3 separate regions of the Homo sapiens genome follow, and all the other regions are linked to region 2. The links come from fine-mapping of genetic effects on gene expression. A gene starts in region 2. Each other region holds a variant in brackets. All regions are shown on one strand. Distances are between the middles of the regions. Region 1 overlaps PJA2 (praja ring finger ubiquitin ligase 2). Region 2 holds the start of PJA2 (praja ring finger ubiquitin ligase 2). Region 3 overlaps PJA2 (praja ring finger ubiquitin ligase 2).

The links. PIP is the estimated chance that this variant, and not a neighbour inherited with it, causes the effect.
Region 1: its variant is fine-mapped to the expression of PJA2 in whole blood (INTERVAL, PIP 0.96).
Region 3: its variant is fine-mapped to the expression of PJA2 in non-classical monocytes (Schmiedel 2018, PIP 0.95).

Annotation. Positions count from the first base shown.
Region 1 is chr5:109,379,819-109,390,818 of GRCh38, forward strand. PJA2 (praja ring finger ubiquitin ligase 2) reads right to left here. Exons shown (of 10, transcript NM_014819.5): 2 at 3,585-3,702; 3 at 1,685-1,885. The coding sequence starts at 3,615. Among named protein-coding and RNA genes, the nearest start is that of PJA2, 25 kb to the right of the region's middle. The variant T/C (reference allele first, on the strand shown) is at 4,725.
Region 2 is chr5:109,405,604-109,416,603 of GRCh38, forward strand. PJA2 (praja ring finger ubiquitin ligase 2) reads right to left here and starts at 4,371. Exons shown (of 10, transcript NM_014819.5): 1 at 4,239-4,371. RefSeq lists enhancers at 3,456-3,555, 3,596-3,715, 4,826-5,005 and a silencer at 4,236-4,315.
Region 3 is chr5:109,337,574-109,348,573 of GRCh38, forward strand. PJA2 (praja ring finger ubiquitin ligase 2) reads right to left here. Exons shown (of 10, transcript NM_014819.5): 8 at 7,132-7,246; 9 at 6,617-6,738. Among named protein-coding and RNA genes, the nearest start is that of PJA2, 67 kb to the right of the region's middle. RefSeq lists a silencer at 475-769. The variant A/G (reference allele first, on the strand shown) is at 5,873.

The sequences.
Region 1 (11,000 bases), 26 kb before region 2:
AAGTTTACTTTAGATGTGTTATAGTTATGACTGAAAAACAACAAAGAGATCAATATGTTGATTCTTGTCATAATTGTGAGAATTCTGAAACATGAGTAAAATCATATCTATAAATTACTTTAAGCATAACTATCTTGCATCACCACTAATAAAAAAAATGAAGACATTTGAGATTTGCTGGAATAAAAATTCATGAATTGTAAAATAACTGAAGTTCGGCCATGATATATGGTACGAAGGGTTCTTTGATATATGGTACGAAGGGTTCTTTTTTTTTTTTTTTTTTTTTTTTTGAGACGGAGTCTTGCTCTGTGGCCCAGGCTGGAGTGCAGTGGCATGATCTCGGCTCACTGCAAGCTCCGCCTCCCAGGTTCACACCATTCTCCTGCCTCAGCCTCCCAAGTAGCTGGGAACGAAGGGTTCTTCAATGGGATGACCCTAGCTAGTAATTCAGATTCTTACATATGACAGCAAAAATAATCTAGAAATGTCTTGTCAAGTTTGCTTAGAACAAGAGGAAGAAGACAAATCCAGTCCAAAAATGTGCAATTATGGTACATGGATAGCTGCAAAATACTTTTTCAAAACCATTGAATAACTAAGAAATTTTAATTGAATAAGCCTTCCTTGTCCTTTGGATTTTGTAAAATGATGAAAAAATAAACAAGCCAAGTTAAATTTAGGATAAAATTAAAAGAAGAAAAGTTGGCCGGGCACAATGGCCCATGTCTGTAATCCCAGCACTTTGGGAGGCTGAGTTGGACGGACCACTTGAGGTCAGGAGTTCGAGACCAGCCTGGGCAACATGGCAAAACCCCATCTCTACCAAAAAATACAAAAATTAGGCGTGGAGGCGCATGCCTGTAGTCCCAGCTACTTGGGAGGCTGAGGCAGGAGAACCACTTGAACCCAGGAGGTGGAGGCTGCAGGGAGCCCAGATCACGTCACTGCACACCAGCCTGGATGACAAAGTAAGATTCCATCTCAAAAAAAAAAAAAAAAAAAGAACGCCAGGCATGGTGACTCACACCTGTAATCCCAGCACTTTGGGAAGCCAGCCAAGACAGGTGGATCACTTGAGAGGTCAGGAGTTTGAGATCAGCCTGGCCAACGTGGTGAAACCCTGTCTCTACTAAAAATACAAAAATTAGCTGGGTGCAGTGACAAACACCTGTAATCCCAGCTACTAAGGAGGCTGAGGCACAAGAATTGTTTGAACCTGGGAGATGGAGGTTGCAGTCAGCCAAGATGCACTACTGCAGTCCATCCTGGGCAACAGAACGTGACTCCATCTCAAAAAAAAAAAAAGAAGAAGAAGAAAAGTTATTTAAATATTATATGCAGGGAAAAAATATCTCTACTTGATCCACATTTTTAAAAATTTCAAAATATATCTTTTTGATTCAAAGATGATTTCCTTTGGCTGGAGGTTATGACAACGTAATCACTACTATGAGAGTGTGGTTATATTTTAATGATTGGCTGTATTCTATTTTCTTCTACAATGTTTAAATATATACACCATTAATATTAAATTCAATAAGAATTTCAAAATAGAATTTCTTGATAGGAAGTGTGCTGCATTTACACTCACAGACATGCATAATACCCACCCAAAAATTTAATTATAAGATCAATTCCTATATAACTATTAATAACCTTTAAATAATTAAATGTTACACACCTGAGGAATTTTCCTTTGGAACATCATCTAGTTCCAACACTTCATAGTCATCACCAGCCCGACCTAAGCTTCTTTCATGTCTGGTCATACATGGTTTAAAACTGACATAAGCATGTCTTCTTCCATATCTCCTGCCTGTAATTGTCTGATACCCTCCTGCTGGTTTGGGCCAGACAGCCTTACCAGATTCTTGGTCCATTGCTGAAAAAAAAGTTAAAAAATTAAAACAGGAACAGCAATGAGCTTTATTCTTGCAACCTGTTGGGGAAAACTACTTCAGTTTATATTTTATTATTTATCAAATCATATGCTTCTGAACATGAAGTGTACCTTACTAGTACTATAAAACATTATTCTTCACACACTAGAAAATTAAATATGAAGTACTATATAATAAGAGTTAGTGGCCTTTTCCCTTCAAAAAATATGTTTTAAAATTTGGTTTCTTTAAGGTATTTCAGATTTTTATAATGAAACCTATCAAAAAATATTTTTCATATGCCAAATTATTATACTGCCAAAGCTCTTTATGGGAGATCTTCCAAATTAAGTACCTTATATATTATATTAATATAAGTGCTCAATACATATTTGATGAATCAATTACTAGCATTATGATATGATGGTTTCAATTACTTTAAGAATGAAAACATTTATGTCAAAGATAACAAGTAACCTCTTTAAATGGTATCTGTACCATGAAGAATCAACTAGATCACAATAAATATGTTCCAAAGATTAACGTCAGATAAAACTATCCAAAAGAAAACAGCAATGAGCCAGGTCAAACACATACTACCCTGCCTTCAAAACTACCAATAAATGGTATATGTTATGGTAAGAAAAGCCATCAACATTTACATGACTTGACAATTAAGTTTTGTTGACTGAGGGGTATACAGTAGTAAACAGCAGCAACTTTCACTAAGTAGTACATTATTATACACACACATATATATATTAAGTGTAAGTCTGCTTAGTCAATTATACATTACATGTACTACACAGCAACTAAACAAAATATTTTCTCACAGCATATGGTATAGTCAATAAATGCAACAGTTGCTGGGCATGGTGGCTCATGCCTGTAATCCCGGTACTTTGGGAGGATGAGGCAGTCGGATCACTTGAGGCCAGGAGTTCGAGATCAGCCTAGCCAACATGGCGAAACCCCGTCTCTACTAAAAATACAAAAATTAGCCAGACGTGGTGGCACATGCCCATAATTCCAGCTACTCAGGAAGCTGAGGCATGAGAATCACTTGAACCCAGGAGGCGGAGGTTGCAGTGAGCCAAGACTGTGCCACTGCACTCCAGCTTGGGTGACAGTTCGAAACTCCATCTCAAAAAAAAAAAAAAAATGAATAAATGAATGAATGAAACAGTTACATAATTTCTTAGTTGTATTAAAATAAGAAATATAATCACTTCCAAGAAGGAAACAGAAACAAACATGTATTTATAATACACGCACATATCGAGTATAAATAATATCAAGTGTTACACTTATTTAATCCCATCAGTAATCTTGAGGTGGATATTGTATTCTATTTTAAAAATTGAAAAATTAAAGTTAAAATTAAGTGTTGGATAACTTGTCTAATAATCCAAAAGTATGACTCCAGAACCAATGCCCTTAACAATTCTACCAAAAGAATAGTCTCCGAAGTGGAAAGCATAAAGCTTTCCAAGCTAAATGGGTATGGAAAGAAAATACCAGAATTTCTATTTTTACCTATCAAAAATTAGAAACTAAGCTTTACAAATATTCAATATATGGATCAAAACCAGCCTTTTAGTAAGACCACAGGTCAGATGATCATATGTCACTTACTGGTACTCAAGGTACCCAGAGGAAAAAACAAGAAGTACTCAATGTAGAAGAACTGACTTTCCTTACCTGCTGGCTCCTTTTCAGTGTACTGTGACATATATGGCAGCGTCTGTGTGACCAGTTCAGTAGAATTATAGATGTGATTTAGTTTTTATTCACACTATGGACAAGCCGCAGAAGATTCCTACAAAGAAACAATGAATTGAACAATATATTAATAAAAGCACAAAAATAGCAAAACTGATACTTCTGCTCCTCCTAGTGAAGTCTTATAATAAAACTTAGAAAAATACAATGTGATGTAGCCAGCATGGTGGCAAATGCCTGTGATCCGCCTTAGATTACAGCACTTTGGCAGGCCAAGGCGAGCAAATCAGTTTGAGCTCAGGAATTCGAGAACAACCTGGCCAACATGGTGAAAGTCTGTCTCTGCAAGAAATACAAAAATTAGCCAGGCGTGGTGGTGCACACCTCTAGTCCCTCAGGAGGCTGTGGTGGGAGGATTGCTTGAGCCCAGGAGGTGGAGGCTGCAGTGAGCCGAGATCATGCCACTGCACTCCAGGCCTGGGTGACAAAGTGAGATCCCGTCCCAAAAATAAATAAAAACAAGAAAAATACAACACAATTTGACAAGCCAATCAAAAACTCTCAGAAATACCAAAATGGCTATGTGAAATACAGATTTACATCTGCTCTTGATAAACCTTGCCTAAGTATATATCATCCTTAAGACTGTCAATGACAACAACACATACATAATTTGTAAGTAAACAAACAAAAATATCAGAAGTACTGACTCAGGTATGTAACCAAACTATTTGGGAGTCTACTACACTGTGCTATCATTGCTTCTCTGTCAAGCAGTAAAGTTCCTTTAGCCCTGGAATTGCTAAAAGGTAACTGTAAGAATACAAACTTCATTTTTTAAAAATGTGTAATGGCTTATAACAATAATTAATGTGTGTAAATAATGATGTATTTATTCTTTGCAATAGTCAGTTGATCAGATAATTTAATCCCAAATAAGAACCTATTTTCAATCAGGAAAAACTACAATTTATCATGGAACAAATACAAAAAGAACTTCTGTTTTGAAATTAATGCATTTATTTACTATTTGAAAAGTACTATTTGAGAAGTTGCAACCTGTGGTTTTTTTGAAAGTTTGGTTAAGTTTTTATTTAAACACCTTATTTATTTAAACAC[T/C]TGAGCTACTGCTAATTGCTCATCATTAATGCAATAGCTCTGCAAATGAGTTTAATTTATATGTTACCTGTCTAATCACAGACAGATATATATTAACATACGTAAGAGTACAAACCCACATTCACCCATATAATTTATAAATTCAGTAACAAGTTATGATCCTTTAAAGTATCTGAATCAAAAGAGGCTGTTAGCAACAGCTAAAGAGAAAAGGAATATAAAAATAATAATAATCTTAACATACTGGCAAAAACATAGGTGCTAATTAACAGTGTTTTAACTTTTTTTTTTTTGAGGGCGAGTCTTGCTCTGTCGCCCAGGCTGGAGTGCAGGGGCTTGATCTCGGCTCACTGCAACTTCCACCTCACGGGTTCAAGTGATTCTCCTGCCTCAGCCTCCCAGTAGCTGGGACTGTAGGCGTGTGCCACCATGCCCGGCTAATTTTTGTATTTTTAGTAGAGACAGGGTTTCACCATATTGGTCAGGCTGGTCTCAAACTCCTGACCACGTGATCCACCTGCCTTGGCCACCCAAAGTGCTGGGATTACAGGCATGAGCCACAGTGCCTGGCTGAAATGTGCGTTTTATTCTGAGATGGAAAACCATCAAAGTTCTGACCACAGAAGAGATATTTGACTTCTGTTTTAAGAAGAATGCTCTGGCTACTGTATTGAATAGCATGAAGAGGAATGAGGTCTAAAGCAGGGAGCACTGTTAAAAAGCTATCAAAATAATACTGGTAAGAGATCATAGTGGTTTGGACCAGGGTTAAAATAAAGATGGTAAGAAATGACCAGATTCTGGACATATTGTAAAAATACAATCAACAAAATTTACTAATATAGGATATGAAAGAAGGTCGAGGTTGACTCCAGGTTTTACAGGCTGGGCAATGGGAAAAATGGAGTAAATTTCAATTAATGTAGGAAAAATTGTGGAAGAGCCAGATTTGAAGAAAATATATTCAGTTCAGTTTTGGATGAGTTAAGTTTGAGATATCTATTAGACATTCAAATGGAAATATTAAATAGGAGTCTGGTGTTGACTGAAGAATTATGAGCTGTTAGTATAATTTGGGAGTTGTCAGTGTATAGATTATACCAAAACAGGTATGAACTTGGATGAGATCTCTAGGTGTACATGGAGAAGTGAAGTTAAGCCCTGAGAAAATCAAATATGAAGAGGCCAGGGAAAAAGAAGCAGAGATTGAGTATCCCTTTTCCAAAATGCTTGGAACCAGAAGTGCGGATTTGGGATTTTTTCAAATCTTTGAATATTTGCATATACATAATGAGATATCGTGGGGATGACATCCAAGTCTAAACAGAAAATTCACTTGTTTCCTACACATCTTACACACACAGTCTGAAAGTAATTTTATACAATACTTTTAATAATTGTGTGCATGAAATAAAGCTTCTGTTAAGTACTGATGTGTGGAATGTTAAAATTATGGTGCCATATTGGCAGTAAAAATGTTTCAGATTTTGGGGCCAGGTGCAGTTGCTCACACCTGTAATCCCAGCACTTTGGAAGGCCAAGGCAAGCAATCACCTGAGGTCAGTGAGACTCTGTCTCAAAAAAAAAAAAAAGTTTCAGATTTTGGAACATTTTTCAAATGTTAAATTTTTGAATTAGGGATGCTTAACCTATAGCAGAAAAAACAACAGAGGGCAGTGAGAGAAAAGAAAAATACTGAAGTGTGAACACCAAGTGAAGAAAGTGTTTTAGGCAGAACTGATCGTGCCAAAAGTTAAAGTATGATGAAGGCCTATCACTGACCACTTAGCAACATGGAGGATAATGGCGAATGGCGGCACCTTTGGTAGCATGGTTGGTGCAAATGCCTGATAGGAATGCTACTAAAGAGAGGAAAGGAATTGGAAACAGTACAGAAATCATGGAAATCACCCTGTTTCTTAAACTTTTCTTTAATGTGATTCCACTTTTCTTCTTAAAGATACTCTTCGGAGCCGTCTAACATCCTGATCTAAATTTAGTCTACGTGTTTTCAAGGGCTATTAATCAGCTACTTCTGTGGAAATCTTTTGATTGTACTACCCGCTCAGGTTAAGTACCCTACTTTGAATTCCATGTTTTTATCATTTTTTTTTTCCCTTTACTGGAAGATCCTCAAATAATGGTTTCAACAAGTATATGTTGGAGGCAAACACTGAGTCCTTGGACATCTGAAAATACTATCTCCCTCATACTTTAGTACAGTTCAAGACAAAATCATTTTTTCTAAACTCTGAAAGGCACTGTGTCCTACCTGTCTACCTATTTATCCTCATTTTGTAGAAACACCAAATTTTTCTGTCTGGAATATTTAGGGTCTATCTAAATAGCTGGTATTCTATAATTTCACAAAGACTTGTTTGGGGCAGGCCATGTTTAAATTTTTCCTACACAGCACTGGAAGAGCTATTTTAATTTAGAGACTCTTGTACACGTCTCAAATACATCTTTTTCCTCACTACTTTTTCTTTATTTGGCCCAAATGGGTTAATCATTTGTCTCTAAACTTTTCTTTCATATTTTCACTCTACAGACTGGGAGATTTCACTCATTTTTACTTCTTTCCCTTAGCCTTTCCTTATTCTCTTAGCCTGTCATTACTCTCTGTAACAATCTTTTTAATTTCTCATACTTTCTTATTCTGTGATTATTATTTAATAGTAGTTCTTGTGTTATGAATATAGACTAGAATCTCTCTGTAGATACTAATTATTTCTACTTAATCCGAGACCTCTATATTCCGTCTACCACTTTCTATCTCTAAGTATAAAAAATAAGAAAAAAAGCAAAACAGGGAAGAGATAAGTAGGGAATAAAGACCATAGCTAGGGTCAAGATTAAAATGATTAATCAGTCCAAATTTGTAGCTAAGGTAAATTGGGAACACCTAGTTTTTCTCTAAATAGACATTTCCTTTGCTGATTAGTTGTTTCCTCCAGGTACTATTCACCTAACATGTTTATAACAGACTGCTCTCTACTTGTGACAATTAGTCACTTCAAACAATTCGGGGTTTTTACATACTTCTTACTAATACTAAAACAAATATATAAACGTGTTGCTAAGAATTAAAGGACTCAATCAAGGACGTATTAATTTCTGGATCTCTGAATTATTAACCTAGAAGTAATCACTTTATCATTTCAACCAGGATATTATGCCAACAGATCTGGACAGACAATAGGAATCATCTTTAAAGAATGCAAGGAAGAACATGGACATGTAAGGTACACTTCTCACAGTAAACTAGTGAATTTAAAGACAAAGGCCTGTTTATTTTTTATTTACATACACTTTGTCTAGTACATTGTCTGACAGTATATTTAAACAGTTACTGAACAAACGAATGAATGAATGAGATAATTCTGTGCTCCTTTCTCTGATGGAAATGTGGTCACATAATGGAAAAAGAGGGCTAAGTATTTGGGCACACATGGATTCAAACTTCATTTAGGCAAGTTAATAAACTGCTCTCAGTATTAGAGCCCTCTCTTGTGACTTGTTTCTAATGAAGACAGTGTGATGGATGTGACTGTGTGTGATGTGCAAGAATAGGGTAATAAAAGGATTGTGGCTTCCTTAATTTCTCTGCTCACTCTTTCTGGAAGAAACCAGCTGCCACATCATGATATCACTCAAGTAGACCCACAGAAAGCCCACATGGTGAAATACTGACCGTTCCTGACAAAATCCACAAAAACTAAGGTCTTCCGGCAACAGCCACATGGATGAGCAACCTGGAAAGGGTAATGCCCTAGTGCATTACCCTTCAGATGACTGCAGTCCCAGCCTACATTTGACTGCAACCTCTTGAGAGACTTGAACCAAAATCAGCAACCAGGCTGCTCCTGAATTTCGAACCCACTGGGACTATGTGATGATAAATGTCTGAGTTGCTATGTCCACTGCAGGACAACAAGTTACTCTACTCTCTTATCCTGCAACAGGTAACAAATACAAACAATGTAAATTAAAATGAAGATTTAGGCACAGGGAGACAAAAATCAGCTAAACTTCCAGAAGAAGGGTTTCAACTGATAGCGTGGATCTACACCCTTATGACTCATCTGCTGGGAGCCAGAAATAACTCACTTTTAAAGTATCTTTTCTAGAAAAAAAAGGTTGAGAATCAAATACAATTTGATCCTTACTTGAAGGAAAAGTCTTGGTTACTCTTCCAAGTCCATTAGAATATTTTTTATTCTCTCATATTTATATTTACATATATGCCTCCAAAATGCCCTAAAAACATTTAAAATTCCTCTTAAATCAGTCTTGTATAATTAACTTACCCTGCATTTCCTTTTAGTGAATGAATTCCTTAGACACACGGAATTTTGATAATTTACACCTATTATCACAACTGAGATATAAATTAAGAACTACAAACTTTATGACAAAATGCATTTATGACAAACTATGACAAATGTTATTAGAAAGCTATTTTACATTCCCCAAACAAATCCATGTTGGTCACAATACATTAACCCTTTTATATCTCACTGGATTATTCTTTTACCTATGTTCATGAGAAATATTGGCTTAAAATAGTCTCGTCATGCTTTTGTCAGGTTTTCCTATCAAGATTATACTAAAGTCATAAAATATGCAAATAAATCTTTCTATCTTCTTCTTGTTCTCTAGAAGAGTCTGTGTAAACCCAGGATTATATCTTACTTAAATGTAAGGCAGATTTGTCAGTGAAGCCATCAGGTCTAGGATTTTCTTTGTGGAAAGGTTTTTGATAAATTCAACTACCTTAATAGACACAGAACAACTCAGATTTTCTATTTCTTTATATGTCAGCTGACTAAACTGTGTTTTTCAGGGATTATGACCTTTCATTCAAGTTGTCAAATGTATTATCAAGTTGTACATAATTCCCTTTCATTAACAATTTAATATAGAGAGGATCTGTAGTGAAGTCTCTTTTTTTCATCCCTGTTACTAGTAATTTGTGTTTTCTCTCATTTTTCTTAATCAGGTCATTACAGGTTTTCATTTTTTAAAAGTTTTCTTAACTAACTGACTGTAAAACTTTCCTGTTTCATTGATTTCTACTTTTATACTATTTCCTTCTTTCTACTTCCTTGGGTTTAATTCATTGCTCCCTTGAGATAGGAGCTTAGACTACTGATTGTAAACCTTTGTTCTTTACTAATTTATACATCTAAAGCATAAAGTTACCTCTAAGCATTGCTTCAGCTGTATTCCAAAAGTTCTGATACGTATTATTTTTATTATTTTTCAGATTAAAATGTTTTCTAATTTCCACAGTGACTTTGTTTTTCATCCACAGGCTACTCAGAAGTGTCTTGCTTAATTTCCAAATATTTGCAGTCTATTTTTTTTTTTTTGTTATTGGGTTGTAATATAATTCTATAGTGATCAGAAAACATGCATTGTATGATTTAAATTCTTTGAAGATTAATGATACTACTTTATGACCCAGAATATTTTTGCACATGTCCCATATGCACTTAAAAATAATGTAAAGCCTTCAGTTGTTGAATATAATGTTCTATAAATGTCAATTAGGTTAAGTTGATTAATCATACCATTCAAATTTCTTATTCCTTTACTAAAACTTTTTTAAATCTTATTGTTCTACCAGTTACTTTGAATGTATTTAAAATCTCCAGCTAGGAATACAGATCTACCTTTCTTTTTAGCTATTTTAGCTTCTGTCTTACATATTTGGAAGCTGTGTTACTATGTGAAAACATATTTAGAATTATGTCTTCTTGATAAATTGGCCCACTCATCATGATTTTTTTTTCTCTTATCTCTCATAACACTTCTCTCCTTAAATCTATTTTGTCTGGTATTAATATAGCCACATCAGCTTTCTTTTGGTATTTGCAACAATACTGATTCCATCTTTTCATTTTACCTGTGCCTTTACTTGTAAAGTGCTTTTCTTATAAATAGAATATAGGTAGGTCTTACTCACTTATATATAATGTCTGATAATCTTTCTCTTTTTGTTAGAATATTTAATCCATTCACATTTAACATAATTACCAATGTAGTCTGGTTTAAATCTACCATCTTGCTATTATTTTCAATCATCTCACCTGTCCTTTGTTCCTTTATTCCTCCGTTCTTGAATTCCTTGGTAATTTTTTTTTATTATTCCATTTCATCTGCTAGCTTTTTTGATACATCCTTTAAAATATCATTATCTTAGTGGTTTTCCTAGAAATTACAAAATGTATCCTTGATGTATGCTGGATGATATTTCCTAGAAGCTCTAAA
Region 2 (11,000 bases):
TCAACTGACTTTTGACAAAGTTAATTCAATGGGGAAAGGAAAGTAGTCCCAACAAATGGTGCTAGAACTACATATACATTTGAAAAGAAAATGAGCCTTGACCCTTACTACACACCATATACAAAAACTAACCCAAAATGGATAATGTGCCTTGACATGAAAGCCAAAACTAGAAAACTTATAGAAAAATCCTAAGAGTAAATCTGCACAACTTTGCATTAAGCAAAGAGTTCTTAGAACACAGAAGCACAAATCATAAGAAAAAGTTGGTAAGATGAATTTATCAAAATTAAAAGCTCTTCTTTTAAAGTTAGGAAAATAAAAAAAAAACAAGCTTCAGATTGCAGTGTGTGTGTGTGTTTATGTATCTCTGTGTGTCAAATGAGTTGTATAAAGAATGTATTAAAAAATGCTTACAACTCAATAAGACAAACCCATTTTTTTTTTTTTTTTTTTTTGAGACGGAGTCTCGCTCTGTCGCCCAGGCTGGAGTGCAGTGGCACGATCTTGGCTCACTGCGAGCTCCACCTCCCGGGTTCACGCCATTATCCTAACTCAGCCGGAGTAGCTGGCACTACAGGTATCCGCCACCACGCCCGGCTAATTTTTTGTATTTTTAGTAGAGATGGGGCTTCACCGTGTTAGCCAGGATGGTCTGGATCTCCTGACCTCGTGATCCGCCTGCCTCGGACTCCCAAAGTGCTGGGATTACAGGCGTGAGCCACCGCGCCAGGCCCACCCATTGTTGTTTGTTTGTTTTTTAATGAGCAAAAAATGTCAACAGATACTTCACAAAGGAAGACATACACTAGAGCAAATTCTCAGCACCATTAGTCATCTGGTAAATGCAAATCAAAATCCCAGTATGATACTACTATATACCCACTAAAAGGGCTAAAATTTAAAAGACTGAAATAACCAAGTGCTGAGGATGATGTGGAGCAATTGGAACTGTCATACACTGCTGATGGATATGTAAAATGTGACAACCACTCTGGAAAACAGTTTGGCAGTTTCTTATAAACATCCATGTATCATACAACCCAACAAGTTCCATGTCTAGGTATTTACCAAGAAAAAAAAGATGTTCACAAAAATTCAAAATAAATGAATGTTCATTGAATAAAGGAATGTTCAACAAATGAAGGCTATTTATTAATAACAGCCCCAAACTGGAAACAATCCAAGTATCTGTAAATAGGTGGAATGGTCAACAAACTAGTAAATCAATACCAAGGACTTCTATTCAGCAATAAAATGAGAACCCGTTAAATACAGAAAAACATGGATAATCCTGAAAAACATGCCAAGAGAAAAAGCCAGATACAAAAGAGTATGTATTACATCATTCCACTTACATGAAATTCTAGACAAAATGATACCAATTTATAGCAAGAAAAAGATGATAAGTGCTTTCCTAGTCCTGAGGGTGAAATTGTGATTGACTGCAAAAGGGAACTTTGGGGGAGATGAAAATATTCTATATCTTAATTGTGGTATGAAAATATTCCACTCTTGACTGTGGTGGTGGTCACAGAGCACATATTTGTCAAAACAAAATACACTGTACATTTCAAATAAGTACATTTTACTGTATCTAAGTTATCCTCAATAAGGTTGATTTTCTAAGAGGGTGCTCTCTCAGGAAAATATAAACCAGGGAATACTGGTGATGCCCACATATACCCACCTCAAAAGATGTCAAAAAAATATATATAAGAAAACTCATTTATGGTTTTTAAAAATGTCAAAAACAACAACATAAGCATCTTGGAAAGCCAAGACTAGAAGGAAATATTTTAATATCAGCGGCTTTACCAGAAAGCTTCACCAAACATCATAATTAATGCTAAAACATTAGAAGCATTCCCCCTTAAAGTCAGAAACAATGCCATGTTTGTTGTTAGCTATCAGTGCTATTAGTTTTTAATCTACCAGTGCTCAACATTTTATAAGATGTATAATTGCAAAAGCAATGAGAAAAACACATAAGTTATAAAAACTGAAAAGGAAACCACAAAACTGTGAATATCTCCTGATAATCAACTCAATAAAATAATCTGATACATGATAGAAAACTCAAAAGTTTTGCTATAACCAGAGAAAACAGAGAGAGAGAAATGTTACTGAAAGTTTCCATCCACCACACGAATCAAACCATAAAATAGGAATACCAGGAAGGAATGTTATACGTATGAAGAAAAAAAAGAAAAACTATAAAAATTTCCCTAACAGTATAAAACAAGATGTGAATAAAATGGAGAGGCCACATTTCTGAGGAGAGAGACTCAATACTATAAAGATCAGTTGTCTCCAAATTAATCTAAAATTTCAATATAACCTTATTCAAAATAGCTAAGGATTTTTAGTTCAGTCTAAAGTTTACCTAGAAGAAGAAATGCATAAGAAACATTCAAGAATATTTTCAACAAGAGTAATAAAGAGGGAGAAAGGGTTACCAAAATTTAAAATATGCATAATCTTTTAACTGAGCAACTTCACTTCTAGGAACCCATGCTCCAGAAATAATCACACATAGAGGAAGTTTACTGAATTGTTAACAGTGGCTGACAATCAAGATGCAAGCAGGACTAGAAGTGGAAGCGGTAATTTTTACCTTACATTCTTCCATACTGTTTAATTTTTTAAAATCAAGGATGAATTAAAATTTGTAATTAAACATCGATCAATAAATTAGAAAGTTATTTTCATTATAAATCATCATTTGTAATAGCAAAAAGAAACTGCAATTAAATGTCTTTCAAAAAGGGAATAGAATAAATTATAGCCCATTCAAACTCACGAGATACCAGTTAGCCTTTTAAAAAGTATTAGGGAGACCTATATGTAAAAAGTAAAAATGTCCAACATATGTAATTAAGTCAATAAGCAAGCGGTATGCAAACATGTTTGGTATATGGTATAGCCTCCCTCAAAAAAAAAAACTTTACGTGTACTTGTATGTGTCTAGAAGTGCATTTGCAAGATTTTGAAAAATGAACACTAAACTGTCAACTTTACACTGGAGTGGGACTGGGGGATGAAAAGAAATATTTAAATTTTACCTAACAGTCCGTTATTTATATTGTTGAAGTGTACATCAAACTTGCATGTCTGCAATGAATTTTTAAAATTAAGTGGTCATCTCATATAAAAATGACATGAACCCCAAAAGACAATTACAACACTGAAAAATACAGTTTAAACGTTTATTACTGTTATCCTCAGGTTTATTCACATACACTTCAAATGATCCGTAGCCTTCAGCAAAGGTGACTGCCATTTTAAAGAAATGTGACCAAATATTTCATGATAAAACAGAATACATTAAGCCTGCAATGAAAATTTTAAACTTCACAGAACCAGCAGACTCAAAAGAAGCGCCTATGCGGATGTAAATTTTTTTTTTTTTAATGTCCGGAGAAGGAACTCTCAGATTACTCTCCTCCCTGCAAAACGACTATTTACCACCTCCCCTTTGCTTCAACTTGGTCTGAGCGTCTTTAACCTCACCATTTTGAATGTGCGCAAAATGATTACCAGTCATCTGAGGGAGGCCAAATTAAAGGTGCATCTGCAAGAGGAGCTCTGGCCTGACATCGCTAACTGAGAGCAGCCCTGGCGGAAAGGTGCTGATCCCGGGAGTAGAGCGACTGCTGCGGCTCGAGCGGGGTGTCTGCGTGCCGAGCCTCACTGACAATCGGGGAAAATGCAGACGCCCAGCAAAACGACGGCAACAGAAGGCTCCTCGGGGGAGGGGTGCTGCAGGCCTGTGGCGTAAGATGGTTCCGCTCTACGCGGGGTGACGGGAAACCGCAGAAGGTGGGTGTGAGGTGTTGGTTGGGGGGCAAACTCTTGTACAGTGGCGAGTGTAGGGGAAAGCCAGCGGGCTCCTTGGCCAAGTCACCAAGGACAGCAGAAGAGGCAGCAGTAAAGAGCGGCAGCGAAGACCCCGATACCAACCAATGTCATCTGTCGGGGGGCGGCGGGCGCGACCGTCCCGGATAGGAGCGCGGCCCGGGTCCGGGCTGGACAGGGCCCAGGAGGCGAAGAAGGCCTCCCACAGCCATCAACCCCACCCACCATGGCCGGCGCAGCAGGCCAGGGACAAGCCCCGCTCCTTCCGAAGCTAGAGACAGAGAAACTGAGGAGCTGAACGCAGCAATTTCCTCGCCCCGACCCCCACACTCCCGACAGCGGAACAAGCCAGACTGAAAAAAAAAAAAAAAAACCCTCACCGAAATGTGCAGCGGCTCCGGAGCGAGAACAGCGCTCGAACCTCCACCCGCCACCACCGCCTTCTTCTCCGCCTCCAACTCCTCCCCCGCCGAACGCGAAGCGGCTGGCGGCTGTGGCGGCGGCGGCGGCGGTGGCGGCGGCGGAAGCAGAGGCGGTGGCGGTGAGTCCCGCCCCTTGCGCCGCGGTGGAGGCGAAGGAGGAGAGTACGCAAGCCCCTCCCCCATAGCAGAGATGACCAGTCAGCTTACAGGGTCTCTGCTGGGGGACAATGCATACGCCCAATCAGAACCTGAGGAGTGGGCTCACGTCAATGGTTGGGACGTGGCAGAAAAAGGGAAAAATACTTGGACCTTCTCTACAGCCTGCTCCCCCATCTCCCTCAGGGGGAGTTCACCAATTGGCTGAAGAGCGGAAAGACGAAGCCGACTCAGTCCCCCGCCCCAGCCGAGCCCACCTCCTTTCCCTGCAGTACTGCGACGTTTGGGGAGGGGGCGGAGCACCGTGTAGGAGCTAAAACTGCGCGGCCTTTTGTGGTTTGGGCTGAGAGAAAAGGGCGGGGTCTCGGAAAGGGAAGGGGGTGTGGAGAACTAACAGAAAGACTGGCGCAGTTAGGCTTTTTCGGAAATTCCAACAGCAACAACCAAAATGGAGGCATTAAAATCGATCCTGATTCGACTGGAAACCTGATTAACAAGGTTAAGGTCTCCTGGCATAAAGTTCAGTTACAATGCAGATATCGGTGAGACAAAAAAAAAAAATGACACGAAGAAAGGCTTGTTTACCCACCCTGACCCTGGGCACTATATGGCGCTTTCCACCCTCCCTCTCCGCGCTGACCCTTGCCCCTCGCTTCTTATTCTGCTGGGGCGGGGTTCAGAGGAGGCCTGCCTTTCCTCTGTATAGCCTTGGGCTGACCACAGCCTCCCAGCTTGCATCTTGAGGCTGTTTGTCAAGCCGGGAAGTAACAGCTCCCATCACATGCAACCAAAATAAATACAACAGCTGCAGTCCCCGGACACCTTGCTTAATTTAAACCTGGGTAACAGTTTAGTTAATTATGTCAGTGATACAAAACTGTTTCTTCGTTCCGCACATATTCCCTTTATTCATCTTGAAACGTGTCCGCTTATCTGATTACAGTCCCTCTGTCTTCTCTTATTCCCCACCCCCGACCCGTCGCCTGATGCCCAGGATATATTCATCGCCACCCCTCCCCCGCGAATTAAGAGCCCCACTTCTTGTGCTGTCCCCTTAACAACAGCGAACTCTCTTGCCAGTGAACTGAGACTAATTTTTTTTTGCTGTTGATGGAAATAAATTACCCAAAATTTACTGTAGAAATTTAGGTTTATGAGAATTTGCCAGACATTTTGTGAAATCCAATCTGAATCCCAGCCCACTCCTGTAGTACGTTTCTTACCAAAAAACCATTCCTTGCTTGATATTACTCTGCCTTCACACGTGTTGCTATAGGAGTTCTGACTTTAACCATCCAAGTACCTCTTTGAAAAAAAACAAAATTCATATTTTAATTACATTTCCCTAGTTTCCCTTTAGGGTGTTCCAGATTGGCCCAACTGGATACATTAACCTGTTCTAGAAGGCAGGGATTCCCAAATTTCAACCTTTTTCATACTGTATCTGTGTATACTACTCACTGTCCTTTTTTCTTTAAATAAATGTATATTTTCTTTAATTTCTTTAAGAAGGAGACTTTATAAAAGTACTATAAATGGAAAACTAGCATCACCTATTATAAGTTGAAAGTAACTGTAAGAAAAATGAATGCAAAACAATGTTTTTAAATTGTGGCTAGAAACTGTTGTCCACTAAAGGCTCTAAGTCTAAAGACAACTGTCTTTGTTAAAAGGGCAAGCTACCAAGCATTAGACACACATTAAAGATACAGCACTCAAATGGTATTTTTATCATGATGTCATCAAAGGATAGAAAAAATAGAGCCGGAATAGCAATCACTTTCTCACTATATGAGTCATTGTTTTTAATCCTGCATGCGTGTCCCAACTACAGTTAACCAAGGCATCATAAGTGATCTATGTTACTATGAGAAACACTGGTATGGAGGCTGAAAAAGCCTGTACTCTAGAATCAAGCAGACATATTCACATACTGGCTCCTGCATTTGTAGCCGTGTGCCTCTGGGCAATCTACTTTGTTCTCTGACCTCGATTTCCAGTTTATTATAAATATGGGAAAGTAATAATACCAATTCATGAGTTGTATAGATTAAATAACCTAATCAATGTAAAGCATATCATACCTACAATGAAGTACTAAATACATATTAGCTTATGTATTGTATTACTATATAGAGATAATAGTATGTATTATTCGCTTATATGTATTATTGTTGATTCCAGGGTTGGGAAGCACTATCTAAGGCAATGGATTGAAGGTACTACATGATATACTGCAGTGGTTCCTAAAGTATATTATAATCCCTACACCAACAGCATCAGCATTACTTAGGAACTTTTTAAAAATGCAAATTCTGGCAAGGCGTGGTGGCCCATGCCTGTAATCCCAGCACTTTGGGAGGCTGAGGTGGGCAGATCACTTGAGGAGTTCAAGACCAGCCTGGCCAACATAGTGAAATCCTGTCTGTACCCAAAAATACAAAAATTAGCTGGGCGTGGTGGCACATGCCTGTAGTCCCATCTACTCGGGAGGCTGAAGCAGGAGAATCCCTTGAACCCAGTAGGCAGAGGCTGTAGTGAGCAGAGATCACGCCACTGCACTCCGGCCTAGGTGACAGAGTGAGACTGTCTCAAAAAAATAAAAATAAAAAATAAATAAATACATAAAATGCAAATTCTCAGGTTCAACCTCAGACTTGAATCAGAAACTCTAGGTATGTTGCCCAGCTGTATTTTTACAAGCCTTCCAGGTAATTCTGACATACGTAAAGTTTGATGACCACTAATTTAAATAGAAGAAGGCTTGGTCAAGGAGTGAGAGGATCTATGTTCTAATCATAGCCTTAAAGTGATGTCAGCCAAAATGAAGGTGTAAGGACCTCTGAAAATTCTCTTCAGCAATGAGAACACTGGCAAAATTGTCAGAACTAACTTTTTTAGAACTCTGAAAATTTACCAAAGGTTTGCAGCAATCCAGGGAGTATTTATTCAAATAGCTGAATCTCTAAGAACAGCCAGTTTTGTGTCATTTTGACTTGCCCTACTCTAACAGCCACATGTCCAGCTCCACTGTAGCTTTGAAAACCAACAGCCCACAATTGTGAAAACGAGCAGGCTGGTAGCCAGTAGGGGAAGTAGAATGGTGTTGGAGCTCCTTTAAAGAGCTTAATTTCCAGAGAACTGTCATTATTTGACCTATCTGGTGGTTCTGCAGATTTTACAAGGCTGCCTTTGTTTGATTTCACTCCAGGCTCACCCAGTGCAAAGACTTTTCCCCAGGGGTCATTTGTCAAAAACAAAAACATTGATTAACTTTGCCACTGTCTTAGGCAGTGGAAACAGGTGGGGCCAAATACAGCTTAACCAAACACTCAAAACTGATGCAGGGCAAGAGGGCCCCAAAACTGGGGCTTAGCCCAGGAAGGTTCTTGGTTTCACCCAGGGAAAAATTCGATGGCAAGCTGCTGGTGTTAGACAGCAATTTTTATTGAAGTGGCAGTGTACAGCAGCAGCAGAGATACTGCTCCTTGCAAAGCAGTGGTAACCCATGGGCAGTGTGCCCAGAGTAGCAGCATATGGGCTGTTGGAAGCTGTATTTATACCCACTTTTAATTATATGCTAATTAAGAGGTGTATTATTAGAACTTTCTAGAGGTGAGGAGTTTTTAGATCCATATAAGGTAACTTTCAGGCTGTTGCCATGGCTTGTTGCCATGGCATTTGTAAACTGTCATGGTCCCAGCAGGAGTGTCTTTATACTAATGAACAGTGTGGGCAGCTAGAGGTCACTTTTGTTGCCCTTTGCTGGTTTCAGCTGGTTTCTTTACTGCACTCTGTTTTCTACCAGATCCTGCTCTGGTAAGAGCAGTAGTGACAGGGGTATTGACCAGCGCTCAAAAAACAAATCCTGCTGATCTCCTACCTCAAAAGGAAAAGCTGGAGAATGAGATGTCCACAGGAACTTTGAAAACTCTGATATGGTTTGGCTGTGTCCCCACCCAAATCTCATCTTGAATTCCCATGTGTTGTAGGAGGGATCTGGTGGAAGGTGGTTGAATCATGGGGGCAGATCTTTCCTGTGTTGTTCTCATGATAGTGAATAAGTCTCACAAGGTCTGATGGTTTTAAAAAGGGGAGTTCCCCTGTACAAACTCTCTTCTCTTGTCTGCCACCACATGAGACGTTACTTTTACCTTCTGCCATGATTGTGAGGCCTCCCAGGCCACATGAAACTGTAAGTCCAATAAACCTCTTTCTTTTGTAAGTTGTCCAATCTCAGGTATATTTTTATGGCAGTGTGAAAAGGGACTAATACAGTGAATTGGTACCAGTAGAGTGGGGCATTGCTGAAAAGATACCCAAAAATGTGGAAGTGACTTTGGAACTGTGTAACAGACCGAGGTTGGAACAGTTTGGAGGGCTCAGAAGAAGACAGAAAAATGTGGGAAAGTGTGGAACTTCCTAGAGACTTGTTGAATGGCTTTGCCCAAAATGCTGATAATGGTATGGACAATGAAATCCAGACTGAGGTGGTCTCAGATGGAGAAGGGTGACTCTTGTTATGTTTTGGCAAAGAGACTGGCAGCATTTTGCTCCTGCCCTAGAGATTTGTGGAACTTTGAAGCTGAAAGAGATGATTTAGGGTATCCGGCGGAAGAAATTTCTAAGCAGCAAAGCATTCAAGAGGTGACTTGGGTGCTGTTAAAGGCATTCAGTTTTATAAGGGAAGCAGAGCATAAAAGTTTGGAAAATTTGCAGCCTGACAATGCAATCGAAAAGAAAATCTCATTTCCTGAAGAGAAATTCTGACCAGCTTCAGAAATATGCATAAGTAATGAGGAGCTGAATGTTAATCTGGAAGATGTCTCCAGGCCATGTCAGATGTCTTCACGGCAGCCCCTTCCATTCATAGGTCTGGAGGCCCAGGAGGAAAAAATAGTTTCCTGGGCCAGGCCCAGGGTGCCTATGCTGTGTGCAGTCCACTGACTTGGTACCCTGTGTCTCAGCCACTCCAGCTGTGACTGAAAGGGGCCAACATAGAGCTCAGGCCATGGCTTCAGAGGGTGCAAGCCCCAAGCCTTGGCAGCTTCCATGTGGTGTTGTACCTGTGAGTGCACACAAGTCAAGAATTGAGGTTTGGGAACCTCTACCTAGATTTCAGAGGATGTGTGGAAACACCTGGATGCCCAGGCAGAAGTTTGCTGCAGGGACAACACCCTCACAGAAAACCTCTGCTAGGGCAGTGAGGAAGGGAAATGTGGGGTTGTAGCCCCCACACAGAGTCCCTACTCGGGCACTGCCTAGTGGAGCTGTGAGAAAGGGCCACCATCCTCCAGACCCCTTGGAGGGTAGCTCTCCTGACAGCTTGCACCATGTGCCTGGAAAAACCACAGACACTCAACGCCAGTCCATGAAAGCAGCTGAGAGGGAGGCTGTATCCTGCAATGCCACAGGGGAGGGCTCCCCAAGACCATGGGAACCCATCTCTTGTATCAGCATGACCTGGATACAAGACATGGAGTCAAAGGAAATCATTTTGGATCTTTAAGATTTGACTGCCCTGCTGGATTTTGGACTTGCCTGGGGCCTGTAGCCCCTTTGTTTTAGCCAATTTCTCCAATTTGGAATGGCTATATTTACCCAATGCCTGTACCTCCATTGTATCTAGCAAGTAACTAACTTGCTTTTGATTTTACATGCTCATAGGCAGAAGGGACTTGCCCTGTCTCAGATGAGACTTTGGACTGTGGACTTTTGAGTTAATGCTGAAATGAGTTAAGACTTTTGGGGACTGCTGGGAAGGCATGATTGGTTTTGAAACATGAGATTTGGGAGGGGCCGGGGACAGAATGATATAGTTTGGCTGTGTCCCCACCCAAAACTCATCTTGGATTCCCATGTGTTGTAGAAGGGACCTGGTGGGAGATGGTTGAATCATGGGGGTGGGTCTTTCCTGTACTGTTCTCATGATAGTGAATAAGTATCACAAGATCCAATGGTTCTAAAAAGGGGAGTTTCCTTGCACAAACTCTATTCTCTTGTCTGCCACCATGTGAGACATGCCTTTCACCTTCTGCCATGACTGTGAAGCCTCCCCAGCCACGTGAAACTGTGAGTCCAATAAACCACTTCATTTGTAAATTGCCCAGTCTCAGGTATGTTTTTGTCAGCAGTGTGAAAATGGCCTAATACCAACTCCAACACATTCCTGGGGATCTAGAAGCTCACACACATGTCCACAGCTGTGTGAAACTGTTCATACACTCAGGAAAGACCTGTGAAGACCCTAAGCATTCACCTTAGGCTGATCTTCAGGCTCTACATAAGTAGGAAGTGAAGGCTAAGGGAGAGTTATTAACTGCCTGCCTTAGTGTTGAAGCCATGCTCCAGTACACACAGACCCTCACTAAACCCTGGGAGATATGTTGTTTCCAGGTCTTCAGAAAATATGTCTACTCATTAGCAGAACACTAAGCTAAGCAAGCAGAAACATTAAACTAACGAAGCAGTGCGAGTAGCCACACAGGACAAAGAATATAGACTTTATAGAAGTAGTTCAGAAAAGTGACTAAACAAGCAACAATAAATGGTAGCAACAACAAA
Region 3 (11,000 bases), 68 kb before region 2:
TTCATGTTCGTATCTTTAAGGTCATTCATCCTCCTTAATTTAGTGAGTTTTAATTAAGAGCTGCTAAACTCAGCAGTGATGCAATGGCAGAGGGTGAGCAAAGAATCATGGCACATGTCCACATGGAGGTCAGAGTTTAGCTCAACAATAATCTGAATTATCATTATTTAGTCTATTATGCGTTTACTAGAGAAACCACAGACCTACTTTAATTCACACCAAATCATTTATGATTTGGTGTGAATTAAAGAAGGTCTACGATGAATTAACGTAGGTCGATGGCAAATTAAAGCCTCATTTTAGGGTAGCACAGATATGTCAAAGCAGATGGACTTCAGACTTTCTTTCTAAGCCATGACATTTCTTTCCAAAAAGAGATAAGAGTGTTAGGTGCCTTCTAAATGACAAAACAATCAACCACAGACCTTGGAGAGAAGGTGGGAAGGAGAAAGCAGTTATACTAGGAGCACAACATTCTAGGACCAATGGACGATTATAGAGCTACGTTATCTGATAACAGATTATCCCCTTGCAAATCTGGTCTTTTTCCCAAAGAGAACTCCCTGCTGGAAGGGAGGCTGAAGAGATCATGCTGTCGAAGGCAACAAAGAACTGTATCTTGGGAACATTCTCCCCAGAAAAAAAGCAGGAAAGGCTTCACACTAAGGTATTTCCTGACAGGAGAAAGACTGAAGAGACTGTTACTTTGTGTTACAGCAAAGTCTCAAGTACAATTCAAGGCTGTACAACATATATTACGTTTACCGTTTAAGAATCCATTTCAGGCCAGGCACGGTGGCTCATGCCTGTAATCCCAGCACTTTGGGAGTCCGAGGTGGACAGATTGCCTGAGCTCAGGAGTTCGCAACCAGCCTGGGCAACATGGTGAAACCCCGTCTGTACTAAAATACAAAAAATTAGCTGAGCGTTGCAGCATGCGCCTTTAGTCCCAGCTACTCGGGAGGCTGAGGCAGAATTGCTTGAACCCGGGAGGCGGAGGTTGCAGTGAGCTGAGACAGCACCATTGCACTCCAGCCTGGGCAACAGAGTGAAACTCCGTCTCAAAAAAAAAAAAAAAAAAAAAAAAATTTCATTTCAGCAAACATTTATTGTGTACTTGCCATACAGATTGGGCCCCAACAATAACATTTTAGAGTCAAATAGATGAGTGTGGTCTTGATGAACTACATACTAGCTATTTAAACTTAGACAAGTAACAATCATTAGAAAACGGGAATAAAGATAACAATAAGTCCTAAAGTACTGTGAGGATTAAAGGAGAAATCATGAATCATTAAAGAGGAATCATCTAACAGTGACTGACACACAGCAGGCACACAAAACACTGCTTCTTAAGTCTCTGAAGCTATCATGGGAATTTAAAGACGGCATTTATTAAGGACAGAAAAGGTGGAATTTAAACTGCACCTACCTATATCATCTAATCTTACAGATGGTATAGGGAAAAATCATGCCAGACTTCAGGAGCAAATGCATAGAAACATGAGCAAGTGTACAGAAAAGTAAATCTGAAGAAACAAGTTGGGGGTCTAAATCACAGAAGGCCTTGAATGTCAAGATTAAAACTTCAGATTATTCCACAGGTGACTGGAGGTCCCTCTCTTTCTTTTATGAGAAGGGAAGTACATTATCAGAACTACATTTCAGAAAATGCCTTTAATGATGGCATGATAGATAATGAAGATTTGGAAGAGTGAGGGGATAGGAAGAGGCGAAGATGATGAGAAATTAGTTAATGGGTATAATGTATGTTATCCAGGTGATGGGATATCCTAAAAGCCCTGACTTGACCACTACATAACCTATGCATGTAACAAAGTTGCACATGTACCCCACAGATTTATGCAAATAAAAAAGAAATGAAAAGAAAGTACCTCTAAAGGAAGTAAGGAAATAAAGTAGGTCACTACAATAGTAGTTAAGACAACAAGGGTTGAAGGTCTAATGTATGGGAGTAGAAATGAAATGAGGGAATGGACCTCACAGACTCAGCCATGCTCGAAAATTTTAAGAGTTGGTGGCTCTGCATTTTCTGCTTCCCCAATAATTTTAATAACACCTACTTCCACTACTACCACCATCATGTACAGACACTGAAAAAGTCATTTTCTACTGAATTCTAACTTTCATTAGTAATAAGTTTACCATTACTTTTCCTATATGTTTACTATGTGCCAAACACTATATTAAATTCATCATGGATTACCTACTTCAACTCTTATAAAAACACTAGAGGTTGGTATATTGTACAGCACAGCCATCTAGGCTGTATTAACAAAATGCCAGATAAACAGATTAAGAAAAATCACCTAAAATATTATTTCCCAAATTTTGTTCTGGGAGAAGGGAGAGAGCAAGGAAAGCAGTATTTTAAAACTAATTCAGAATCCAGCATTATACCTCAATCCAGAATACCAGGAAGTCTCATGAGACTTGAGACACACATTATCTCTATGCAGACAATACTCCTCAAATAATACACATTAGCACGTGCTGTTTACTGAAGACTGCTAGCTGGTCTTTGTAACTTGCACCATAAGTTTTTATTTGTGATTTTGTTGTTAATAAAATAAAAACACCTCTAATTTCTAATAATAGCTTTCATCTGATATGATTTGTAAAATATTTACTGGGCACTTACTACCTGACAGGCACTATGGGTTATCTCATACAGAGATATTTTATAAAAGAACAGTGAACATTTCTAAACTGGATTTCAGAGATTTTAAGTGGAATTTTGAGAAGAACAAAGTGGCAAATAGAAATAGAGGAACAGCAAAGAAAGGAAAAGGAAAGACGGAAGGAAGGAAAGGAATGGGAAAAGGGAAGGAGAAAAAAAGCACTGGTTTATAGGGAAGAAAGGGAGTTGTATTCCTAAGTAGATAATTTGGGAAAGTGACTTGGGAATTCCTAGTGAACTGGATGGTAAATATCCTTTATGCAAAAACAGAGTTCACAGAGAAGACTGAAATAAAACACTTCCTTTATTTAAATAATTCAAATATGCTTAAGATTTATTGGGTCCCTCCCCCTCCCCCTCCCCCTCCCCCTCCCCCTCCCCCTCCCCCTCCCCCTCCCTCTCCCCACGGTCTCCCTCTCATGCGGAGCCGCAGCTGGACTGTACTGCTGCCATCTCGGCTCACTGCAACCTCCCTGCCTGATTCTCCTGCCTCAGCCTGCCCAGTGCCTGCGATTGCAGGCTCGCGCCGCCACACCTGACTGGTTTTGGTGGAGATGGGGTTTCGCTGTGTTGGCCGGGCCGGTCTCCAGCCCCTAACCGCGAGTGATCCGCCAACCTCGACCTCCCGAGGTGCCGGGATTGCAGACGGAGTCTCGTTCACTCAGTGCTCAATGGTGCCCAGGCTGGAGTGCAGTGGCGTGATCTCGGCTCACTACAACCTACACCTCCCAGCCGCCTGCCTTGGCCTCCCAAAGTGCCAAGATTGCAGCCTCTGCCCGGCTGCCACCCCGTCTGGGAAGTGAGGAGCGTCTCTGCCTGGCCACCCATCGTCTGGGATGTGAGGAGCCCCTCTGCCTGGCTGCCCAGTCTGGAAAGTGAGGAGCGTCTCCGCCCGGCCGCCATCCCATCTAGGAAGTGAGGAGCGCCTCTTCCCAGCCGCCATCACATCTAGGAAGTGAGGAGCATCTCTGCCCGGCCGCCCATCCTCTGAGATGTGGGGAGCGCCTCTGCCCCGCCGCCCCATCTGGGATGTGAGGAGCGCCTCTGCCCGGCCGAGACCCCGTCTGGGAGGTGAGGAGCATCTCTGCCCGGCCGCCCCGTCTGAGAAGTGAGGAGACCCTCTGCCGGGCAACCACCCCGTCTGAGAAGTGAGGAGCCCCTCCGCCCGGCAGCTGCCCCGTCTGAGAAGTGAGGAGCCTCTCCGCCCGGCAGCCACCCCATCTGGGAAGTGAGGAGCGTCTCCGCCCGGCAGCCACCCCGTCCGGGAGGGAGGTGGGGGGGGGTCAGCCCCCCGCCCGGCCAGCCGCCCCGTCCGGGAGGGAGGTGGGGGGGTCAGCCCCCCGCCTGGCCAGCCGCCCCGTCCGGGAGGGAGGTGGGGGGGTGAGCCCTCCGCCCGGCCAGCCGCCCCGTCTGGGAGGTGAGGGGCGCCTCTGCCTGGCCGCCCCTACTGGGAAGTGAGGAGCCCCTCTGCCCGGCCAGCCGCCCCGTCCGGGAGGGAGGTGGGGGGGTCGGCCCCCCGCCCGGCCAGCCGCCCCGTCCGGGAGGGAGGTGGGGGGGTCAGCCCCCCGCCTGGCCAGCCGCCCCGTCCGGGAGGGAGGTGGGGGGGTGAGCCCTCCGCCCGGCCAGCCGCCCCGTCTGGGAGGTGAGGGGCGCCTCTGCCCGGCCGCCCCTACTGGGAAGTGAGGAGCCCCTCTGCCCGGCCAGCCGCCCCGTCCGGGAGGGAGGTGGGGGGGTCGGCCCCCCGCCGGGCCAGCCGCCCCGTCCGGGAGGGAGGTGGGGGGGTCAGCCCTCCGCCCGGCCAGCCGCCCCGTCCGGGAGGGAGGTGGGGATGTCGGCCCCCCGCCCGGCCAGCCGCCCCGTCCGGGAGGGAGGTGGGGGGGTCAGCCCCCCGCCCGGCCAGCCGCCCCGTCCGGGAGGGAGGTGGGGGGGGGTCAGCCCCCCCGCCCGGCCAGCCGCCCTGTCCAGGAGGTGAGGGGCGCCTCTGCCCGGCCGCCCCTACTGGGAAGTGAGGAGCCCCTCTGCCCGGCCAGCCGCCCTGTCCGGGAGGGAGGTGGGGGGATCGGCCCCCCGCCCGGCCAGCCGCCCCGTCCGGGAGGGAGGTGGGGGGGTCGGCCCCCTGCCCGGCCAGCCGCCCGGTCCGGGAGGGAGGTGGGGATGTCGGCCCCCCGCCCGGCCAGCCGCCCCGTCCGGGAGGGAGGTGGGGGGGTCAGCCCCCCGCCCGGCCAGCCACCCCGTCCGGGAGGGAGGTGGGGGGGGTCAGCTCCCCCACCCGGCCAGCCGCCCCGTCCGGGAGGTGAGGGGCGCCTCTGCCCGGCCGCCCCTACTGGGAAGTGAGGAGCCCCTCTGCCCGGCCAGCCGCCCCGTCCGGGAGGGAGGTGGGGGTGTCAGCCCCCCGCCTGGCCAGCCGCCCCGTCCGGGAGGGAGGTGGGGGGAGTCAGCCCCCCCGCCCGGCCAGCCGCCCCGTCCGGGAGGTGAGGGGCGCCTCTGCCCGGCCGCCCCTACTGGGAAGTGAGGAGCCCCTCTGCCCGGCCAGCCGCCCCGTCCGGGAGGGAGGTTGGGGGGTCAGCCCCCCGCCCGGCCAGCCGCCCCGTCCGGGAGGGAGGTGGGGGGGGGGTCAGCCCCCCTGCCCGGCCAGCCGCCCCGTCCGGGAGGTGAGGGGCGCCTCTGCCCGGCCACCCCTACTGGGAGGTGAGGAGCCCCTCTGCCCGGCCACCACCCCGTCTGGGAGGTGTGCCCAACAGCTCATTGAGAACGGGCCAGGATGACAATGGCGGCTTTGTGGAATAGAAAGGCGGGAAAGGTGGGGAAAAGATTGAGAAATCGGATGGTTGCCGTGTCTGTGTAGAAAGAAGTAGACATGGGAGACTTTTCATTTTGTTCTGCACTAAGAAAAATTCCTCTCTCTTGGGATCCTGTTGATCTGTGACCTTACCCCCAACCCTGTGCTCTCTGAAACATGTGCTGTGTCCACTCAGGATTAAATGGATTAAGGGCGGTGCAAAAAAAAAAAAAAAAAAAGAAAGAAAGAAAGAAAGAAAAAAAGAAAATATGTAAATAAAGAGAGATAATGTACCATAAAAAAAAAAAAAAAAAAAAAAAAGATTTATTGGGTAAATATTTGAAGACAATATATAAAAACTGGAATAGGAGCTACTTGGTAGGTTATTAAGT[A/G]TCTCTCATATACATTTCAGAAACACCAACCTGTATTAGCAGAATAGCTGTATATTGTTATAGTACTTTGAGTAGTGCCAAAGGCTTCTCTGCTTTAGATACTTTTGAAAACACCAAATTTCAGGGTTATGATTAAAATTCTAATCAGCTTTATTCTAAAATGAGTTTTCAGATATTTAATCACTTCCTAAAATGATTAAAAACATGTTGTTATTATTGTCTATATTTTTAGACAATGTTAGTAAAATAAAATATTTCCATATTATCCCTGATCTGTAATCATTAAATGCAATCAGGTTTTTAACAATGAATTAAAAAGTACTACAAATTTGCGGCTAAATAAAACAGGTTTAAAAGATACTACTATTGGCTGGGCGTGGTGGCTCATGCCTGAAATCCCAGCACTTTGGGAGGCTGAGGCAGGCGGATCACCTGAGGTCAGGAGTTCGAGACCAGCCTGACCAACATGGCGAAACTCTGTCTCTACTAAAAATACAAAAAATTAGCTGAGCTTGGTGGTGGGTGCCTGTAATCCCAGCTACTTGGGAGGCTGAGGCAGGAGAATCGCTTGAACCCTGGAGGCAGAGGTTGCAGTGAGCCGAGATCGAACCACTGCACTCCAGCCTAGGTGACAAGAGCGAAACTTTGTCTCACCAAAAAAAAAAAAAAAAAAAAGATACTATTATTCACTTGCAGAAGACACTATTAAAGTATTTTTAAATTTTTAATTATTCTATCACTCACCTTTTGTAGCCAAATTGAGACACAAGGTTTGTGAAAGAAATGGTGACAGGGCAACTCTGTTGCTATATCATCCTTAATATACTCACTGCAACAGATTGGACAGCATTGTTCCTGACCAATAGCTGAAAACAACAAATAATTCAGGTCAATCACACGTAGTTCAATTTTAGTAAAACTGAAAAGCAACATATTATACTCATAGAAGATACCTCTGAAAGACGAAAGAGCCAGTCTTTGACCAGTTAATTGGCAGGCATTTCTGTCTAATACTTGGCAATTTGGAATCTAATAAATACTGCTTTGTAAAAAAGCTGACAGAGGAACATTTGTCTCAGCCTATCGCTTGAAAATTAAAAATATTCTTGTACTAGGTGAAAGTTTGTGAGCATCTGGTTTCTATAAAAAAAATCTAGTGAAAGTTTCTAATAATCAAGTATTTAATTATCTAGGTATATTGATAATATACTTAAATGTACAATGTGTTCTTCAACATTTGAGATCAACTTTGCCCTTACCAGTGTGATCTTCAAGAACAAGGGTCTCTGGAAGACCATCAATGCTTTCCTTACTAGCTGGTGGATTGGCCACCTCAACATCCACTGCAAGAGACTCTAAATGGGCCAGAGCAGTCTGAAAAACAAAAGGTACAGTTCTTTGTTAGAAATACTTTAAAACAGTAACAGAAAACTATTTTTAGGGTATCTCCAAAATTATATCACCATTATTCTCTTTTTGTTAGTTTCTTTTGCTTTAGTCCTTTGCTCCTTTTGCCTCTTCAGAAGGAACTACCACCATCACCAACAAACCAAAACATTAAATATACACGCAGAGCCCAACTTTCTACATGTGAAATAAAAATATACCTTGTCTCGGCCGGGCGCAATGGCTCATGCCTGTAATCCCAGCACTTTGGGAGGCCGAGGCGGGGTGGGTCACTTGAGGTCAGGAGTTCAAGACAGCCTGACCAACATGGTGAAATCCCGTCTCTAGTAAAAAAAAAAAAAAAAAAAAACAAAATTAGCAGGGTGTGGTGGCACATGCCTGTAATCCCAGCTACTTGGGAGGCTGAGGCAGGAGAATTGCTTGAACCCAGGAGGTAGAGGTTGTAATGAGCCGAGATCAAGCCATTGCACTCCAGCCTGAGCAACAAGAACGAAACTCCATCTCAAAAAAAAAAAAAAGCAGGTCGTGGTAGTGTGTGCCTATAATCCCAGCTACTGGGGAGACTGAGGCAGGAGAATCGCTTGATCCTGGGAGGCAGAGGTTGCAGTGAGCTGAGATCACCATGCACTCCAGCCTGGGTGACAGAGCGAGACTCTGTCTCAAAAAAAAAAAAAAAAAAAAACTACCTTGTCTCAATAATCATCTACTTCTCCGTATTTATATTTTGAAGGAGTGGTTACTTTTTCCAACTATTGGTTCCTATGTGAGATCAATAACATGAAAGAAAATAATAAACATTTTGGAAAGGTTCACTTCATGAAAGATAAAATGTGGCTGAGGCTACTAGAAGCTCCAGGTATGGAAGCAAATAATGCACTCCTGAATGGCTACATCTACTACTGGCATGGATTTGGCGCACCCACATTACCAGCTCACAAGTATTACTAGGTTATCTGGGTTGTGAATTTCATTTACAGGTTCAAATATCTGTGTCAAATTACTGTTCTAAGAAGGATGGAAAGAACATCAGATCATGTGATCATCTGGGATGCGTCATCCTCATCCTTTCTGGCTCTAATTAGACTAGAATGGCAGTTGAGACTTTTGTCTTTTTGTCTGCAACCTGTACAATTACTTGCTCTTGGTGCACATGCTGCTTCCCCTGCCTGGTGCTTTCTGTCCATCCTTTAAGTCCTATCACTCCCTCTGGGACTGCATAAGTCCTGTCTCTTCCATGAGGCCTATGTCAGTGGTCCTAGACTGCACGAGTATCCTTCTGAACTGCTACTGTATTCAAAGAATTGGTATTACACCGTTTAATTATTACTTGTTAGTATTATATCCTAATTACAGCATCATAAGATCATGGAGCTATGAAAGACCTTGGCTTCTTTTTAGGGATGAAAAACCTGAAGGAAATTTGACAACTATCAAAACTGGGCCTCCCCTCCTGGTTGGAGTGCAGAATATTACAGCTGCTAGAGAAAACAGCCCAACAATTCCTCAAAATTAAAAACAGAATTATCACATAATCCAGCAATTCTAGTTCTGGGTATACACCCAAAAAGAACTGAAAACAGGGACTAAAACAAGTATCTGTACACCCATGTTCACTGCAGCATTATTCACAAGAGCCAAAAGGTGGAAGCAAATCAACTGTTCATTGGTGGATGGATGAATATGCAAAATGTGATATACACATACAGTGAAATATTACTCCGCCTTGAAAAGGAAGGAAATTCTAACACATGCCACGACATGGATGAACCTTGAAGACATTATGCTAAATGAAATAAGCCAGTCACAGAAAGATAAGTACTGTATGATTCTTACATGAGATACCTAAAGTAGTCAAATTCATTGAGACAGAAAACAGAATGGTGGTTGCCAGGGGCTGGAAAGATGGGAAAATGGGGAGTTACTGTTTACAGCAATGTGAATACACTTGATTACACTGAACTGTACACTTTAAAAAACTGTAGCAATAGTAAATTTTATATTATGTTTATTTTACCATAATAAAAAAAAATGAACAAGCCAGGTTTCCCATATAGAAGAAGAATTCTGCCTGATAGCTTAGCTAACACTCTATTCTTCTGGATGGCAAACATAATATTTATACATGCCTAAGGTCCTACCATAGATATTCCCAAAAAGAATTTGAGATGACTTATAATAGGGATTACAACTTGCCTTGGGCCAAGCCCAAAGCAAAATCAGGACTAAAAAAGGAAAAAGCAAAACGGTTCACAAAGAGTTAATAAACATAGTTAATATTATTGAACACTAAATTTGACTCTGGATATGCAGAGAAACACTGCAAAAAGAAAGAAACACTGTTCCAGTAATTGAATTATTGCTTCTCAGCTCCAAATACACCTTTCATTTCTGCCCTTTGAAAACAGATTTGGGCCTTTTAAATATTTTTCCTTTTGTTAGCTGACATGATTTTAAGTTTTGTCAGCAGAAGGTGCTGGAGAGACACAAGGAAAGGACTTTGCTTCATGGTTCCCTTGGGCTTGCCCCTGCAGTGTGCCAGGCTTCCCTGTGCACAGATGGCTTCTCCAGCATCAGACTCCTCCAGTGTGGGTGGCTTCTCCAGTGCCTGGCTCTTGAAGCACATGCTGCTTATCCAGTAACTGGTAATTACAGGACAAGGTTGCCAGCAGCTTCTCCTTGTACTCATCTTAGGTGGTTCTGCAGCAGAGTACCTAGGGGCTTGGTCACATCACTGTGAAGTTTCTCTTGCCCCAGAGGGCAGATTTTTGCCATGTTCCAGAAGGCAAATTTCCAGCAAGTTCTGCCAGCACAGTACCATAAATACTCCTCCATAAGCCATGGCTGTGTCCTTCCCAATAAGGTCTGGCTCTCAGCCTTAGACAGGAGGGAAGTAGAGTGCTCCATCTCAGCCCTAAAGCTGTTTCTTAAATCTGCTAATCCTATATTCTTTAGAGTTTGCTTTACTTCCTACTAGCCAATCCCTTGGTATTCTAAACTTCTGTTGCAGTTAATATTTACAGTAAATTTTCCCTGTTCAAATTACTGTATTTCTCTCTCTTGGGACTGAACTCAGACTGGTACAGAATTCATATTAAGAGTGGTCCCGGGACACAGAACTGGCAAGAAAAGGATTTGGGGGTTGGTTTGGTTACACCTGTTGAGCTTGAGCTCAGTGTTGAGCTCCTTGCCAATGAGAATGGGATGCTATTAATCCATAGTCTGTAGTGGCATCACAATTAATCAAGGTATCACTGTGGTTGACAGTGATGAAGATCCAACTGAAGCATGTGTCTTGAAAGCCCAGATAGCTCCTATACTTGATCTTACGGCAACAGTGATCTAACTGTAAAAATCGTGATGTGAGATGGATTATTAAGAGTGCCCTTGTGCACTTACAGAAAAAAATTACAAACTCAGGTCTCTTAAACCTCACAATAGGGTATGAGAGCCAGAAAGCATCCACGACAGCCCTAAAAGATGCTCTTGCTCCTAAAAATCAAACGCAAAATGTAATTGTGTGGATTGCTAAATGAAAATTAGAGTTGACTTCTTAGTCTCATCAAATTTCTCAAAAGTTTTACCATTGATTGGTTAAGGAATAAGATTCTGAAACCTGGAATGAAGACATCTGACTGAACTCTGAGGAAACTGATAACTTTGAATCCCCAAGTCACTCTGAGCCTCCTGTTACCAGTAGAAACAGTGTGCCCTCCACAGACTA